2 separate regions of the Homo sapiens genome follow, and region 2 is linked to region 1. The links come from fine-mapping of genetic effects on gene expression. Tissue or cell type: fibroblasts. Region 1 holds a variant in brackets; the other region holds the start of a gene. All regions are shown on one strand. Distances are between the middles of the regions.

Region 1 (8,107 bases):
TTCTATTTTTTTTTTGAGATGGAGTCTTGCTGTGTCGCCCAGGCTGGAGTACAATGACACGATCTTGGTTCACTGCAACCTCTACCTCCCGGGTTCACGCCATTCTCCTGCCTCAGCCTCCCTAGTAGCTGGGATCACAGGTGCCCGCTACCACACCAGGCTAATTTTTTGCATTTTTAGTAGAGACAGGGTTTCACCATGTTAGCCAGGATGGTCTCGATCTCCTGACCTTGTGCTCCTTCCGCCTTGGCCTCCCAAAGTGCTGGGATTACAGGCATGAGCCACCACGCCCATCCCAAATTTTCTATTTTCTTCTTGAATCAGGGTCAATAATTTGTGTCTTTCATCTCTATTCGTATCAGCTGTGAGGTGGTCATAGATGACTTTTATCAGGTTGAGAAAGTTCTCAACTATTCCTAGTTAGTTGAGTGTTTTTGTCATGACAACGTGTTGGATTTTGTCAGTTGCTTTTCAAATCATTTTTATTTTTTATTTGATTGATTTGTTGTATTACATTTCCTGGAATAAATCCCACTTGGTTATGGTGTATGATCTTTTTACTGTGCTGTCGGCATAGTAATTTTATTTGCATACAGTTTTTTTTTTTTTTTTTTTTTTTTTACCTCCCTTTCCTTTGTTTGGTTTGGTCTAGTCAAGGCTTGTTAGTTTTGTTGATCTTCTCAAAGAACTAACTTTCGCATTCGTTGATTTCCTCTATTGTTTTGCATTCTCTGTTTTATTTATTCCTGCTCTAATCTTCATTTCCCTCCTTCTGCATGCTTTGGGTTTAGCTTGCTCTGCTTTTCTCTAGTTTCTTAAGGTAGAAGTTTGGGTTATTGTTTTGAGATGTTTCTTTTTTTTTTTTTTTAATGTGAGTGTTTACAGCTATAAGTTTCCTTCTGAGGACTGCTTTTGCTACATCCTATAAGTTTTGATATGTTGTGGACTTTTTTTTACATTTCAAAGTTGTTTTCTACTTTCTCTAGTGACTTTTCTTTTGACACATTGTTGTTGTTGTTGTTGTTTTTTCCTTTGAGATGGAGTCTCTGTTGGCCAGGTTAGAGGGCAGTAGCGTGATCTCGGCTCGCCGTAACTTCTGCTTCCTGGGCTCATGCGATTCTCCTGCCTCAGCCTCCCAAGTAGCTGGGATTACAGGCATGGACTACCACACCCGGCTAATATTTGTATTTTTAGTAGAGACAGGGTTTCACTATGTTGGCCAGTCTGGTCTCGAACTCCTGACCTCAGGCAGTCCACCCACCTCGGCCTCCCAAAATGCTAGGATTACAGGCATGAGCCACCACTCCTGGCCAGACACATTGGTTATTTAGGAATATGTGGTTTCCTTTCTGTCTGTTACTGATTTCTGATTTAATTCCATTGTGGTTTGAATGTATACTTTATGTGATTTCAGTCGGTTTACATTTACTGAGACTTGTTCCATAACCTACCATATGCTTTATCCTAGAGAACATTCCATGTGCAACTATTCTGTTGATGTTGGATAGAGTAGTCCTTCGATGCCTGCTAAGTCTATTTGGCTTATAGTGTTGTTCAAGTCTTCTATTTTCTTGTGGATCTTCTGCCTAAATTTTATTAATTAGTGAAAATGTGGTACCAAAGCTGTCAACTTTTATTGTTAAATTTCCTATTCTGCTGGGCACGGTGGCTCATGCCTGTAATGAGGTCAGGAGTTCAGCCTGGGCAACATGGTGAAACCACGTCTCTACTAAAAATACAAAAATTCGCTGGGCGTGGTGGCACGTGCCTGTAGTCCCAGCTACTCAGGAGGCTGAGGCAGGCGAATCGCTTGAACCCAGGAGGCGGAGGTTGTAGTGAGCCGAGATGGTGCCACTGCACTCCAGCCTGGGCAACAAGAGCAAAATTCTGTCTCAAAAGAAATTATAATAATAAAATAAAATAAAATTTCCTATTCTTCCCTTCAATTCTGTCAGTTTTTGCTTTCTGTAGTTTGGGGTGCTACTGTTAGGTATATATATGGTTATAGGTTTTACATCTTCCCAATGGGTTAATTTTGTGTTACCATGAAAGTCCCTTTTTATTTCCGGTAACATTAAAAAAAAATCTATTTTGTCTGATATAGGCATCACCAACTCCAGTTCTCTTTTGTTTACTGTTTGGTATACCTTTCTTTTGATCCTTTTACTTTCAACCTATTTGGGTCTAGTGGAGAGTTCTTATACTGCCTTAGGTTAGGGATTCATATTACATTATCATCATTAGTACTGTTATTTGACATTTGCTGTGCTGACTAGCTACTGCTGATAGGTTTTCTTTCCTCAACAATTCTGAGGCTCTATATTGAGTTATATTAGTACATCATCATGGAGAGTTAAAGGTAGGTAAGGATTATTTTCTGAACTGCAATATTGATTAAAGCCATGTGAATGTATAAGATTCTTAGAAGAGTTGACATTAAATCAAGGTGAAGCTGAGGTTTGAGCCTTACTTAAAGGCTGATATTTTCCACTCTAACTGCGGACAGTACTGTAGCACTGTTATAGTACCTGCTCTGAATGTTAGTCTAGCAACTCAGGGTCTTCTTCATGACAGCTGAACCTCAACCATGTGATGGTAAATGTGTAGCAGAGTATGCCTGGCATCCCACCTGCTCCTCCTCCCCCTCCTCCTTGACTGGTTCTGGAAAGCAAATAGGGTGTAACAATAGGAGTTCTGGAATGTTCCTGTGTGGGGCTGACCTTTGTATCGCTGTTAATCCTCTATTTTCAGACACAAAAATGATTAAGTTAAAACTGGATGAAAGTCTTTTCTGGGTCACAGGGCTGAGCTGCTTTTGCTCTTTGCAAATACAAAGAATTTAACAGGATTCTCCCCTTCTCAACTTCCTGTCCCCCACCCTGACCTTCGCACCTTCCCAATATGAGGAAAAAGCAGGAAGTTTTCCTTGCGGGTTTTTTTTATGATGACATGATGGGGCCAGTTGATCAATGGGGAAAACCCCATGTGGCAACACGCCTTCTGTGTACATTCCCAATATTTGCTATAAATAGGGCCATCCCAGGCTGCTGTCAGAATATAACAGCACTCCCAAAGAACTGGGTACTCAACACTGAGCAGATCTGTTCTTTGAGCTAAAAACCATGTGCTGTACCAAGAGTTTGCTCCTGGCTGCTTTGATGTCAGTGCTGCTACTCCACCTCTGCGGCGAATCAGAAGGTAAGTGTCGCTCTTTCCGCTAGCACAGAAGAAAGACTATTTTCATTTTCCTTTTAGCCTTGAGCTCAACTGGGGGTCCCTAAGGGATGGAAAACTGTTAGGAAGTATACAAGAGGTAGTGATGGAAGTTGTCTGCCCATGGTGGAGTGGAGGAGAGAAGAGTTACTGCTGCGGATCAGGCTTTCCTCTCTGCTGTCAATCTCAGCAGATTTGGGGAGTGGTGGGCTCTTAGAGATCCCTAAACTTCAGGATAAAGCCAAAGTGATGTTTCTGGGAGTGATATAAAGTGTGTAATGTTACCAGTAGATGGGGCCATTTTGAAATGTAGAGAATCCTCCTGTGTCCCCAACTTTCGTACCTCCCAACTTAATAGTTTTGGTAAAGTTCAAAACTCATCCTTTAGAAGTAGATTATAATACCTGACATCAACATCCCCACAAGGCATGGGGGACATTGCTTGCCAACTTTAAAATAACATTAATCCCTTACCTTACAGCATGTTGTAATCTGACTCGGGAATGTCCAAGTATTGCTTTATTGCTCAATAGTCACACAACACTTTTAGCAACAGGTGCATTCCTAAAAATGCACATTGAATTTTTTTTTTTTTCTGAGGCAGGGTCTAACTTCATCACCCAGGCCAGAGTGCAGTGGCATGATTACAGCTCACTACAGCCTCAACCTCCTGGAGTCAAGTGAACCTCCAGTCTCAGCCTCTTGAATAACAGGGACCACGGCCGTGTGCCACTCACCTGGCTAATTTTTTTACATTTTTTTTTTTTTTGTAGAGACAGGGTTTCACTGTGTTGCCCAGGCTGGTCTCGAACTCCTGGAGGCAAGCAATCCTTCCTCCTTGGCCTCCCAAAGTGCTGGGATTACAGGCATGAGCCACCATGCCCAACCACATGTTGAACTTTTATGAACAAAATTAAACATTCCTATTAATTAATAGGACAATTTCAAAGTGTTTTCACTCCTATAAATCATATTTCCCTTTGTAGCTCTATTTCTCAATACTTAGTAGCCAGATAATAGATTAAAATCTGCCAATTTATTCATTTTCTGCTTTTGGAAGTTTATCTACATAAGGGTTCCTTCAAGCAGTAGGGAAGGGGCTGCTCATATTCTTGAATGATTATAGTGAACTGAAATGAAATATTGTCAATTTGTATTTCTTACTGAAGATATCCCACTTATGAGAAGTCCTGTGTTTCTCAATTCTATTATTGAACCAAAACTTCTCGGCACACAAACTGTTTTTTCAAAGAACTGTAAACTATGTTAGATTGGTTCTCAACGACCTTACAAAGGTTTCCAAGACATTGAAACTCCTCCTCTAAGTGGTTTATTCGTCATATACATGAGATTCACTAGATTTTTCACAACTTAAGGTAGTTTTATAATACCAATCACAGGATAAGTTTATTCATGTGGATCCAATACCTTTCACTTTTTTTTTTTTTTAGCAGCAAGCAACTTTGACTGCTGTCTTGGATACACAGACCGTATTCTTCATCCTAAATTTATTGTGGGCTTCACACGGCAGCTGGCCAATGAAGGCTGTGACATCAATGCTATCATGTAAGTTATTAATTGATTTTAATTCAGTTGTATCAGGAATACCTAGAAACTTCAGTTTTAAAAATGTTTGCCTTTTTAGAGTTTCATTCAGAAATTACTGATGTTTTGAACATAAGATCTTATTTTAAAGAGAAAGAAATGATGTGGCAAAGATAGCTTTGTCTTAGTACATATCTACTTTAAAGTTCACTTTAAACAGGACTGGAATAAGGCAAAACCTTTTTTAAAAATTTTTTTTGGTCAAACGGAACTAGTATAGGGCAAAAATCACTTTCTAAGGCTATTAAAGTGATAT[A/G]TTAGGAAAATAGGGAAGATACACATTTCGAAATGAGCATCTTCTACCAGAAAGTGTTTGAGACCAAAAGTAAAATCTCAGACTAATTATACTATCACATATAATTTTCTTGATTTATATAGGATATTATATTTTGGAATTATACAAGTTATTGATCAGATACATACATATTCTATGTAACCACCAATAGCAAAATTATATGACAATTCTGGGACTTTATCTTCCTGCCATTGTACTATTATTTGTTACATTGCAGAGAAAGAGAGAATCACTTTGATTTTGCATTAATCTTCATCAGAAGCATTTTTTGTGCATTTTATTTTACCTCATCAACTGAAATGTTTAGTGTGTAATCAACTGGAATATAAAATTTCCATTGTATGTTCTATGAAAAACCCATTGAAAAGCTCATTAAACACAAATCAAATTTTCTGATTTTTCAGCTTTCACACAAAGAAAAAGTTGTCTGTGTGCGCAAATCCAAAACAGACTTGGGTGAAATATATTGTGCGTCTCCTCAGGTATGTTACACTGACATTTAGCCTTTGCAAATGTTTGAGGAAAGAGGAGTGTGCAAAGGGGTGGGCCGTAGGTTTTCTGGGATTCTTTAGTTTAACTATTGTGGAATTTTTAAAGGGAAAATTTGAGTTGGACCACAAAAACAAAGAATGCATTTTTCCACTTACAGATCATCATCGTTATTATTATTTTAATTTAGTGATTTCTTACATGATGTATTAGATTTCTCTATGCATTTGATAGTTACTAGCTGCCTGATTCTTGTTGCAAAGATGCCTACTATTTATATAATTTAAAGGCAATCTGGCATTTGGTTGTTTGTTAAAAACTGAAAAATGAACATTAGTTAAACAGAGATCAATGGTTCTGATTTACGTTGACAATAATAGACAGTAACACTTTATCAATGGACAGAAGGCACCTAACACCAGCATGCCATAGATACTGAACTTGGAGACACAAGATAAGTGTCCATAGCCTGTTTCTGTCATTAATGAGCTGAGTTAGGTTGGGCAAGGGCCATCCTCTCTAAACCTCAATTTCCTCATCTGAACTCTGAGCTGCTTGACATACTGAGTTGAGATTAAGGGCAGGTGAAGCAACCTTTAGGTACCAAAGTCATTCCCACCATGCAGTCACCTTGTCATTACTTACACTTTTCTTCTTTTTCATTTTACAGTAAAAAAGTCAAGAACATGTAAAAACTGTGGCTTTTCTGGAATGGAATTGGACATAGCCCAAGAACAGAAAGAACCTTGCTGGGGTTGGAGGTTTCACTTGCACATCATGGAGGGTTTAGTGCTTATCTAATTTGTGCCTCACTGGACTTGTCCAATTAATGAAGTTGATTCATATTGCATCATAGTTTGCTTTGTTTAAGCATCACATTAAAGTTAAACTGTATTTTATGTTATTTATAGCTGTAGGTTTTCTGTGTTTAGCTATTTAATACTAATTTTCCATAAGCTATTTTGGTTTAGTGCAAAGTATAAAATTATATTTGGGGGGGAATAAGATTATATGGACTTTCTTGCAAGCAACAAGCTATTTTTTAAAAAAAACTATTTAACATTCTTTTGTTTATATTGTTTTGTCTCCTAAATTGTTGTAATTGCATTATAAAATAAGAAAAATATTAATAAGACAAATATTGAAAATAAAGAAACAAAAAGTTCTTCTGTTGATTGAGTTTTATATCATTTTTATGATGTGTATTGAAACCATTTCCAGGCACAGAAAATATAAGAATTTTCTGAGAAATTATATCCTCCACTTACTTCTAGTTGTTCCCTTTATCTCGGCCCCTCATGGCCCTGGACTTGATTTTACATGAATTATAATGGAACAGTTGTTCTTTTTTTTCTTTAATTCAAAGTCGTCCAGATTAAAAGTTGAAAAAGATCCTATATCTGAGATTCATAACCCAATGTTTATTGATTTAAGAAAACTGTTTAAAATAAGAAACCATGCCCACACACCTTTTGACTACAGGGACACAACAACCATTTAGAATATACCTTCAGGCATCACTTCTTCCATCCTTCTGTCACCAGCCAGGATCTCAGCATACGAACATTTCTCCATTTAAAAGTCCTCCCGAGTCATCTTTAAGCAGTTTCCGAAAGGAAAATGACTATTCAGAGAGTTCTTAGTGGCTGCCTTGCTAACCAGCGGGGAGCCCCCAGACGTGTGAAACCTGGTAAGAGCCCAGCAATCAGGATGAAAAGACTCTGAACCAGTAGTTACTATCACTACATTCATGCATCAAGGTTCACAGAGTGCCTCGGATTCCAAAGGACACACAGGATCACTGGAGGCAGGCATGCTGATGATATGATGCAAAATCAAGACACATAAACCCATAAAGTAGGGCAGTGGTGGGTCACTTGATGTGGAGCCAAAAAAGAGTAAGTGGCTCAATAGTCCCCAAGGGCGTCTGCATCCTCAGGAACAGCAACATTGAATCATCAGGGAAAGTATGCTCAACATCCTGTGTGTTGATTCATCATCACACATAGGTTCAGTATGTGCTGGGCACCGTGCCAAGTGCTAGAGAGAAGAAGTGACTTAAAACTTAATAACTTGCTGCTAGATATTTAAGGCTGAGCAATGTGGCGAGAGGCAGGAATGAGTAAAGCAGCTCTTACAACACTTGGTGGTAAGCACTTTAATAATGAAATCATTGGGCATCATTCGTGAGGGCTTCCAGAAGAAGTACTATGCAGTTGAATCACATTAAGTAGCCAATATTTGATGTCATTGACCTGAGAAGATGACAATTTCACAAGATTCAGCCCAATACTTGTGGTATGAAGAATCAGTAGGAAGTAGCTAGTTGGAAAAGGGACAGCAGGAAGTGTTTGGAAATATCTGCGGGCATGTGTAGTTGTCACAATGTCTGAGGGTGAGTACAACAAGCATTCAGAGGGTAGGAGCCAGGGTTGCTAAACTCACTAGAATGCAACGGATGGTTCTGCACAATGAAGAATTGTCCCACCCCAAACGCCAATCGCG
Region 2 (8,107 bases), 96 kb before region 1:
AGTCTGGCCACATATAACATTTTTCAGTTAATACAGATAGAATCTGAATCTCAGAAGCTGAGGCAGGAGGATCCCTTGAGTTACCTGTTTTTTTCTGTGCCCCCAGTTTCTTTCTTTCTAGAACCAAGCTGGCTTCCTGCCTTCAGGTCCAACTTCTGCTCCTTCCTGCTGCCCGCCACTATGAAAATCCCTTTCCATACCCTGGAGTCTCTTGTCCTCCTCCTTCAGACAGAGCTGCCAAGAGCAATAGCTTTATACGCAGAAGCCCATCCACTTCTGGTGGCTTTATGTACTGGGGCCCACCCTCTTCTGCAGCCGATGACATTTGAAATCCCATCCAAAAAAAAAAAAAAAAAAAAGCAGACACCCAGATCCAGATCTTTCTGAAATACAAGTGATTAGAGAGATAAATACATGAATAACACCTTTCCCTGACTATTCTTTTTTTTTTTTTTTTTTTTTTTGAGACAGAGTCTCCCTCTGTCACCCAGGCTGGAGTCTGGAGTGTAGTGGCACAATCTCCCCACTCACCGCAACCACTGCCTCCTGGGTTCAAGCGATTCTCCCACCTCAGTCTCCTGAGTAGCTGAGACCACAGGCACCCGCCACCAGGCCTGGCTAATTTTTGTATTTTTAGTAGAGACAGGGTTTTGCCTTGTTGGTCAGGCTGGTTTTGAACTCCTGACCTCAAGTGCTCCACCCGCCTCAGCCACTCAAAGTGCTGGGATTACAGGTGTGAGCCGCCGTGCCTGGCCTTGCCCTGACTATTCTTACTAAAGTCACCTAATTTAGCTTCTATAGAATTTTGTGCTAAGTGACCTAGACTCTCAAAAAACTACAAAGTAGCCTTATCACCCATCTATAATCCTTTATGTCAAACCCCACACCCCCCCCAAAAAAAAATCTTTGCTGAAATAAAGCATGCCACACAACTTCCAAAGACGTAAACTAGACCCAGATATTCAGTATGTGGGCCAGAATAGTTCTGTTGTTTGTTTTTGTAAGAGCAGAAACAAGTGATATTTTTAAAATTTTATTTTTAGTAAAGATGGGGCTTTGCCATGTTGGCCAGGCTACTCTTGAACTCCTGGCCTCAAGAAATCCGCCTGCCTTGGCCTCCCAAAGTGCTGGGATTACAGGTGTGAGCCACCGCACCCAGCCCAAGTGATCTTTAAGATGCTTCAGATTTTATTTTATCATATATGGTACCATTCCTTTTAATTTGCATGAGGTGTTTGCTGGTAAATTAATCATTTCCTTCCAAATTCTGTTTATTCTGTTATGTCTATGTTCAGATCAATCTAGTCTTAGGGAGAGCAGGAGGAATATGCCTAAGAAAACCATAAAACTAAGAAAAACATAAAACGGCTTAGAAAGTCAACTGAGCCCAGCCTGGGCAAAATAGCGAGACCTCACCTCTATAAAAAATACAAAAATTAGCTAGGCATGGTGGTGTGTGCCTATAGTGCCAGGTAGTTGGGAGACTGAAGTGGGAAGATTGCTTGAACAGGGAAAGTCAAGGCTGCGGTGAGCCGAGATCCCAGCCACTGCACTCCAGCCTGGGCAACAAGAGCGAGACTCCGTCTCAAAAAAAAAAAAAAAAAAAAAAAATTTCAAAAACCCCAAACAAAACAAAACAAAAAAGGAAAGTCAGCTGACATCTAATCCTTGAGATGCAGTGAAAGTTTCTGATTAAATGCACTGAGAGAAGGTGGTGTTGTAGGGAAAAAACTGGATTAAAGAAAAATTAGAGGTCATTTGAGCTATTTTACAACTCTGTAAATTTTAACAACTGATGGCAATGTTAAGTAATTATTGTCTATAGACATGCAAATAAGGTTTATCCCATGAAGGACAACAGTCTTCCTTTCCCCCATGGAAAACCAGTTTCAATATTCCTGATCTATATTTCATTATTCAATATTCCTGATCTACGAATGTACCCATTCTTTGGGTTCTTCTTTGATCTGGCTACTACAGACTCATCAGTTTCGTCACTAATAAGTGCCGGGACTCAGAAGCCGATACCCCAAAATATGGGGCTTTGACATGCTGGAGACCTCAAGGTCTCTCTGACCTTCCCGGCTCCCAGCTCAAAAAAACCTTTGTCTGCCTAAGATCCAGACCCACCAAAAGGAACAACTGTTTCTTTTCCCTTCCCTGTAAGACCAAGAATATACCCCACACCTGAACAGACCCATTCACAAGATAATGTAGCTTATTCTCTCCCCTGACCCATTCATGCTCCCTAGCAGAAGCCCATCCACTTCTGCTGGATGCTCTTCGGCTCCCTCCCGTAACCTCATTTGCCAGGGTAGTCTATAAGCTTCTGAGACATGTTGCAGGGTGGGTAATCAATCACTCTGATTCTCCCTGTGTGCATGTTAAATAAATGTGTATGCATTTACCATTACACAACCTTAAAAGAGTGTTGTTGGTCTATTAGCAATAATGACTGAAGGAAATTGGTATTTTTGTCCATTTCAGCTACTACTAGGATAATCTTATAAGATATTTGGGAAGTTATGTTTTGGTCTATTTAATATATGTGCCTCGATGAAAAAAACACCTTTTGCCACAGGAGACACCAATGTTTCAATATTGATAGGAGCAAAACACATGAGAGTGCTTTTTTTTTTTTTTTTTTTTTTTTTTTGAGGCAGAATCTTGCTGGGTCGCCCAGGCTGGAGTGCAGTGGTGCAATCTTGGCTCACTGCAACCTTCGCCTCCCAAGTTCAAGCCATTCTTCAGCCTCAGCCTCCAGTGTAGCTGGGATTACAGGCACCCGCCACCATGCCCGGCTAATTTTTGCCTTTTTAGTAGAGACGGGGTTTCATCCCAGGGCCAAGCTGGTCTCGAATTCCTGACCTCAAGCAATCCGCCCCGCTCAGCCTCCCAAAGTGCTGGGATTACAGGCGTGAGCCACTGCGCCTGGCCTGAGAGTACTTTTAGAAAACATTATTCCTTTACCTTTTTCAAACTTGAAGCACTCCGAAAGTCCCAACCTTTTGCACATTTGCGGCAGCGACATTGATTTGGTAAACAGCTGTCACACTATTTATTATTTGATGACTTAGGTATCCTTTCCAGCAGTGTTTTTGTAAGGTGTAGTTGCGTTTTCTTTTAGTTTCAATTAACTAAATTTCAAGTGGTTCCCAAAAAAGCCCCTGCTCTCTTAAATTCAAACTCACCTTCCTTTTTCCCACTAGGAAGGACCTTTTCTCCATCCTTGGATTGGAATTTGGAATTCTATGCTAAAATGCCTTTTCAGTTAAAATCTGTGAACGTGGGATGTAACCATAGGAGGTGCTGGCACTTTACGGGAATCATGATTTTATTTAATCTGCGCTTCCAGAAGGCTGCAAATGGGAATTCCAGACAAACCCACTTGGGTGAATCCCAGCACGCGGGCTGCGGCGTAGGGGGAGAGCTCCTCACGCGGCTCAGAGTGTAGCCCAGGCCCGCAGAGCCAGGAACCCGCCCCCAGCTCTCCAAACCCGGGAAGAGAGAGGCGACACTGCTAAGACCGAGGGATGACGGTGCTTCTTCAATTAATTCGCCCCCCGAGATATTCTTACCTACAGAAGGGAGTGTCTGTTCACCAAATCGCTCACTTGCCGCACGACCACGCACCCGCGGCTGTCGGATGGATCCAGGCGCTCTTGGTGGGAAGGGGGCGGAGCCTGCCTGGCCCGGAGCCCGGGGCCACGCCCCCACGCTTTGCATATGCGAATCCGGGCGTCCAGACCTTTCATCCCAGTGTGGAAGCCCAGATTTTCCTGGCCCAGGGCCGGTTTTCTGGGCAGAAACAGTCAACTCTGCTGAAAGGAACAACTTAAGTAATACACTGACATTCAGCATAATGAAGCAAGAGGGCCTGAATCCAACAGCGATCGTTTGCTTTATTTACAAATATGTCCTTTCTTATGAATCCATTTATTTCTCTCCAAAAGCTTAGGAGAGAGGGCTGGCTGGCTGTCACCCCCACTCTACACATGAAGAAAGTGAGGCGGAAGGAAGTAGGCCTAGTAAATAGAGAAGCCTGGGTTTTAGTTGGGGCTCCTGGCTCCAGAGCCAGTGGTTATAATCACTCTGCACTTTTTTTTTTTAAAGGAGGTAGAGTGGGATGGTTTCCTGGCACTTTGAAAATCTGATACAAACAATTTTTTCTTTTCTTCTTCTTTTTCTTTTCTTTTCTCTTTTCTTTCTTTCTTTTTTTTTTTTTTGAGACAGAGTCTCCCTCTGTCGCCCAGGATGGAGTGCAGTGGCGCGATCTCGGCTCACTACAACCCTCCGCCTCCCGGGTTCAAGCGATTCTCCTGCCTCAGCCTCCAAAAATTAACGCCCAGTTAATTTTTGTGTTTTTAGTAGAGACGGGGTTTGGTTTCACCATATTGGCCAGGCTCATCTCGAACTCCTGGCCTCGTGATCCGCCTGCCTCGGCCTCTCAAAGTGCTGAGATTACAGGCGTGAGCCACCGCGCCTGGTCTTTTTTCTTTCTTTCTTTCTTTCTTTTTTTTTTTGAGATGGAGCCTCGCTGTTGTTGGCCCCGGGCTGGAGTGCAATGGCACGATCTTGGCTCACTGCAACCTCCACCTCCCGGGTTCCAGCAATTCTTCTGCCTCAGCCTCCCTAGTAGCTGGGATTACAGGCGCCCGTCACCACACCCAGCTAATTTTTGTATTTTTAGTAGAGATGGGGTTTCACCATGTTGTCCAGGCTGGTCTCAAACTCCTGACCTCAGGTGATCCACCCGCCTCGGCCTCCCAAAGTGCTAGGATTACAGGTGTGAGCCACAGCACCCGGCCACCTGGCCTCTTTTCTTTTCTTTTCTCTTTCTTTCTTTCTTTTTTTTTTTTTTTTGACAAAGTCTCACTTTATCTCCCAGGCTGGAGTGCAGTGGTGCAACCCCAGCTCACTGCAACCTCAATCTCCCAGGCACACTGATCCTCCTGCCTCAGCCTCCCAAGTAGCTGGGCTTGCAGGTGGGTGCCACCACGTCACATTAATTTTTTTGTTTTTTTTTTTTGGTAGAGACAGAGTCTCACTATCTTGCCCAGGCTGGTCTTGAACTCCTGGGCTCAAAGGATCCTCCTGCCTTGCCCGCCCAAAGTGTTGGGATTACAGGCATGAGCCACTACGCTTAGCCTGCAAAGAGTTTATATATTAAAGTGAAACTTCTTATTAAACAGAGAATTTTTTTAAAGCATTACAAGGTTCTTATTGGTTAAAATGGAAAAAATATTTTTATTTCTGTTCATCTCTTGGTGGACTTGAAAAACCCTCCCTAAAGATAAACACTGCGTGGCTTCTAAGGGCTACCAGTGGAAGTGAAATGGATTAAAACACCCCGAGGTGTCTTGGTTCTCTGTCCTACGACTCTGCGTTTTCTATTTTCATCTTCCTATGATTTGTGAAAAGTCCTGAGCTGAACCTTAGGTGTAGGAGTGCCCTGCTCATTGTGCAACCTTGCAAATTGCTGGGTCCTCCCAAAGAATATTGTGAAATTTTCTTAAAGGCTGAAGGTGTCATGATTTCCTTCACACCTCTTGAAGAAAATGAGTTCAAATTGGACCTTGAGAAGTTTACTCTGATTCTCTAATATCTCATAGCCACAGTCTAAATCAGAGAGAGATATTGAGGAATTCATTCATTCATGCATAGAAACATAAATGACACATTTGCAGATTACATGACATGACATTTGAGTTTGATCCCATACGACTGTGTGGGGAGAAGGCTGTGGATGGGGTCATAGATGACAAAAGATTGGCTGTGTGTTGATTATTGTTGACTTGGGCAGTAGTTCTTAGAAACTGATTGCACTATTTTCCATTTTTGTATATGTTTATTTTCCATAATACAAAATTGTTTTAAAATCATTTATTCTGACTGGGCACAGTGGCTAATGCCTGTAATATAGCACTTTGGGGAGCCGAGGTGGGTGCATCGCTTGAGCCCAGGAGTTCAAGACCAGCCTGGGCAACACAGTGAGACCCTGTCTCTACAAAAATACAAAAATTACCCAGACGTGGTAGCATGCGTCTGTAGTCCCAGCTACTTGGGAGGCTGAAGTGGGAGATTGGCTTGAGCCTAAAGAGGTGGAGGTTGCAATGAGCTGAGATCACACCATTGCACTCCAGCCTGAGTGACAGAGCCAGACCCTGTCTCAAATAAACCCATACACAAAAAAGAAAAAAAAATCATTTGTTCATTAAGAAGTTATTTATTGAGTAACTATGTGCCAGACACTGTCCTAGGTGCTTGGGATACATTCGTGAACAAAGCTAAAAATCTCTGCCTTGTAATTTACATTCTAGCTTGGGATGGGGTATATAGAGGGAACATAAATAGTAAACATGATGAGTTAGTGAATTTTATAGTGTGTTAGAAAGTGGTAAGTGCCGTGGATCCCACTGAGAAGAGGATGGAGAAGATGACTAAGCCTGAGGCTTGGAGCTCCAACTTGGGAAAGAACCTACAGGGAGGCTGAATGAGAACAGTAGGAGAGGGAGCCATAGTGTATTAGGGAGTTGCTCAACACTGTGTACCTCCCTATTATACTTCCTCTTGCACTGTTACTAAAAAATGTGGCTGCAATTATGTCCATGAAAACCTATACAAGGCCAGGCATGGTAGCTCACGCCTGTAATCCCAGGTGAGTAGATCACCTGAGGTCAGGAGTTCGAGACTAGCCTGGCCAACATGGCGAAACCCCATCTCTACGAAAAATGCAAAAATTAGCCAGGCGTGGCGGCACACCCCTGTAATCCCAGCTACTTGGGAGGCTGAGGCAGAAGAATCGCTTGAACCCAGGAGGTGGAGGTTGCAGTGAGCCGAGATCACGCCACTGCACTCCAGCCTGGGTGACAGAGTGAGACTCTGTCTCAAAAAAAAAAAAAAAAAAAAAAAAAAGTCTATTTGAATAGTTGATATAGGAGTGGAGAAAAGGTGGCCAGGCAAAGAAAATCTCACATTAGGATTACTGCAAGTAGGCTAATTTATCTGTTTCACTCTTAAATGTTAACTCTTTGAAGGCAAATATTTGTTTAGTTTTTTTTTTTTTTTTTTTTTGAGATGGAGTCTCACTGTGTTGCCCAGGCTGTAGTGTAATGGGTCGATCTTGGCTCACTGCAACCTCTGCCTCCTGGGTTCAGGGGATTCTCCTGCCTCAGCCTCCCGAGTAGCTGGGATTACACGCACCTGCCACTACGGCCAGCTAATTTTTGTATTTTTAGTAGAGACAGGGTTTCACCATGTTAGTCAGGCTAGTCTCAAACTCCTGACCTCAGGTGATCTGCCCGCCTCGATCTCCCAAAGTGCTGGGATTATAGGTGTGAGCCACCGCACCTGGCCTTATCTTTAGATTTCTATCTTGGCTGGATAACTGGCCTAATAGAGCAGCCACATATTTGCTGAGTGAATGAGTAAAAAACACATAGAGAGTTGGAGAGAAGCTGTGACCTGCCGTACTGGGACCATCCAACACTCCCAATCATAAATCAGTTGCAGATGTTGGAGCTCATAAACCGATAACACAAAATACAGTGCCTTGAGATACCGAACTGCAGAAGCCTAAGGGTCTGTCTGATCTCCCCGACAAGGTCTCTTCTGAAGAAGCTGAAGTCTTCTGTCTGCCTAAGATCTAGACCCACCAAGGGGAACTATGGTTTTTCCTTCCCCTCCTTGTAAGAGTAAGAATGTAACCACACTTGAATAGACCCTCTCACAGTCAAAGAGAACTACTTACAAATTAATCTCAGTACCTGATCCTTTATTGTCCTTCAGCAGAATTCCTCTTCTTCCTCCTCCCATAATGTGTTTAGCCAGGCTGGTAGATTGAAGGGGGCCAGCCTCTCCACACCTGTGGGTATTTCTCGTTCATCTCTTGGTGGGACGAGAGACTGAGAAAAGAAATACGACACAGAGACAAAGTATAGAGAAAGAACACTGGGCCCAGGGGACCGGCGCTCAGCATACGGAGGACCCGCGCCGGCTCTGGTCTCTGAGTTCCCTCAGCATTTATTGATCACTCTCTCTACCTTCTCGGCGAGGGGGATGTGGCAGGACTATGGGGTAATGGTGGGGAGAGGGTCAGCAGGAAAAT

What was found. PIP is the estimated chance that this variant, and not a neighbour inherited with it, causes the effect.
Region 2: it holds the start of SLC19A3, and the variant in region 1 is fine-mapped to the expression of SLC19A3 in fibroblasts (GTEx, PIP 0.94).

Annotation. Positions count from the first base shown.
Region 1 is chr2:227,810,790-227,818,896 of GRCh38, forward strand. CCL20 (C-C motif chemokine ligand 20) reads left to right here and starts at 3,053. Exons shown (of 4, transcript NM_004591.3): 1 at 3,053-3,198; 2 at 4,665-4,779; 3 at 5,518-5,595; 4 at 6,273-6,767. The coding sequence starts at 3,123. The coding sequence ends at 6,294. RefSeq lists an enhancer at 6,990-8,107. The variant A/G (reference allele first, on the strand shown) is at 5,075.
Region 2 is chr2:227,714,365-227,722,471 of GRCh38, forward strand. It overlaps SLC19A3 (solute carrier family 19 member 3), which reads right to left and starts at 3,664. Exons shown (of 6, transcript NM_025243.4): 1 at 3,579-3,664. RefSeq lists an enhancer at 3,195-4,081.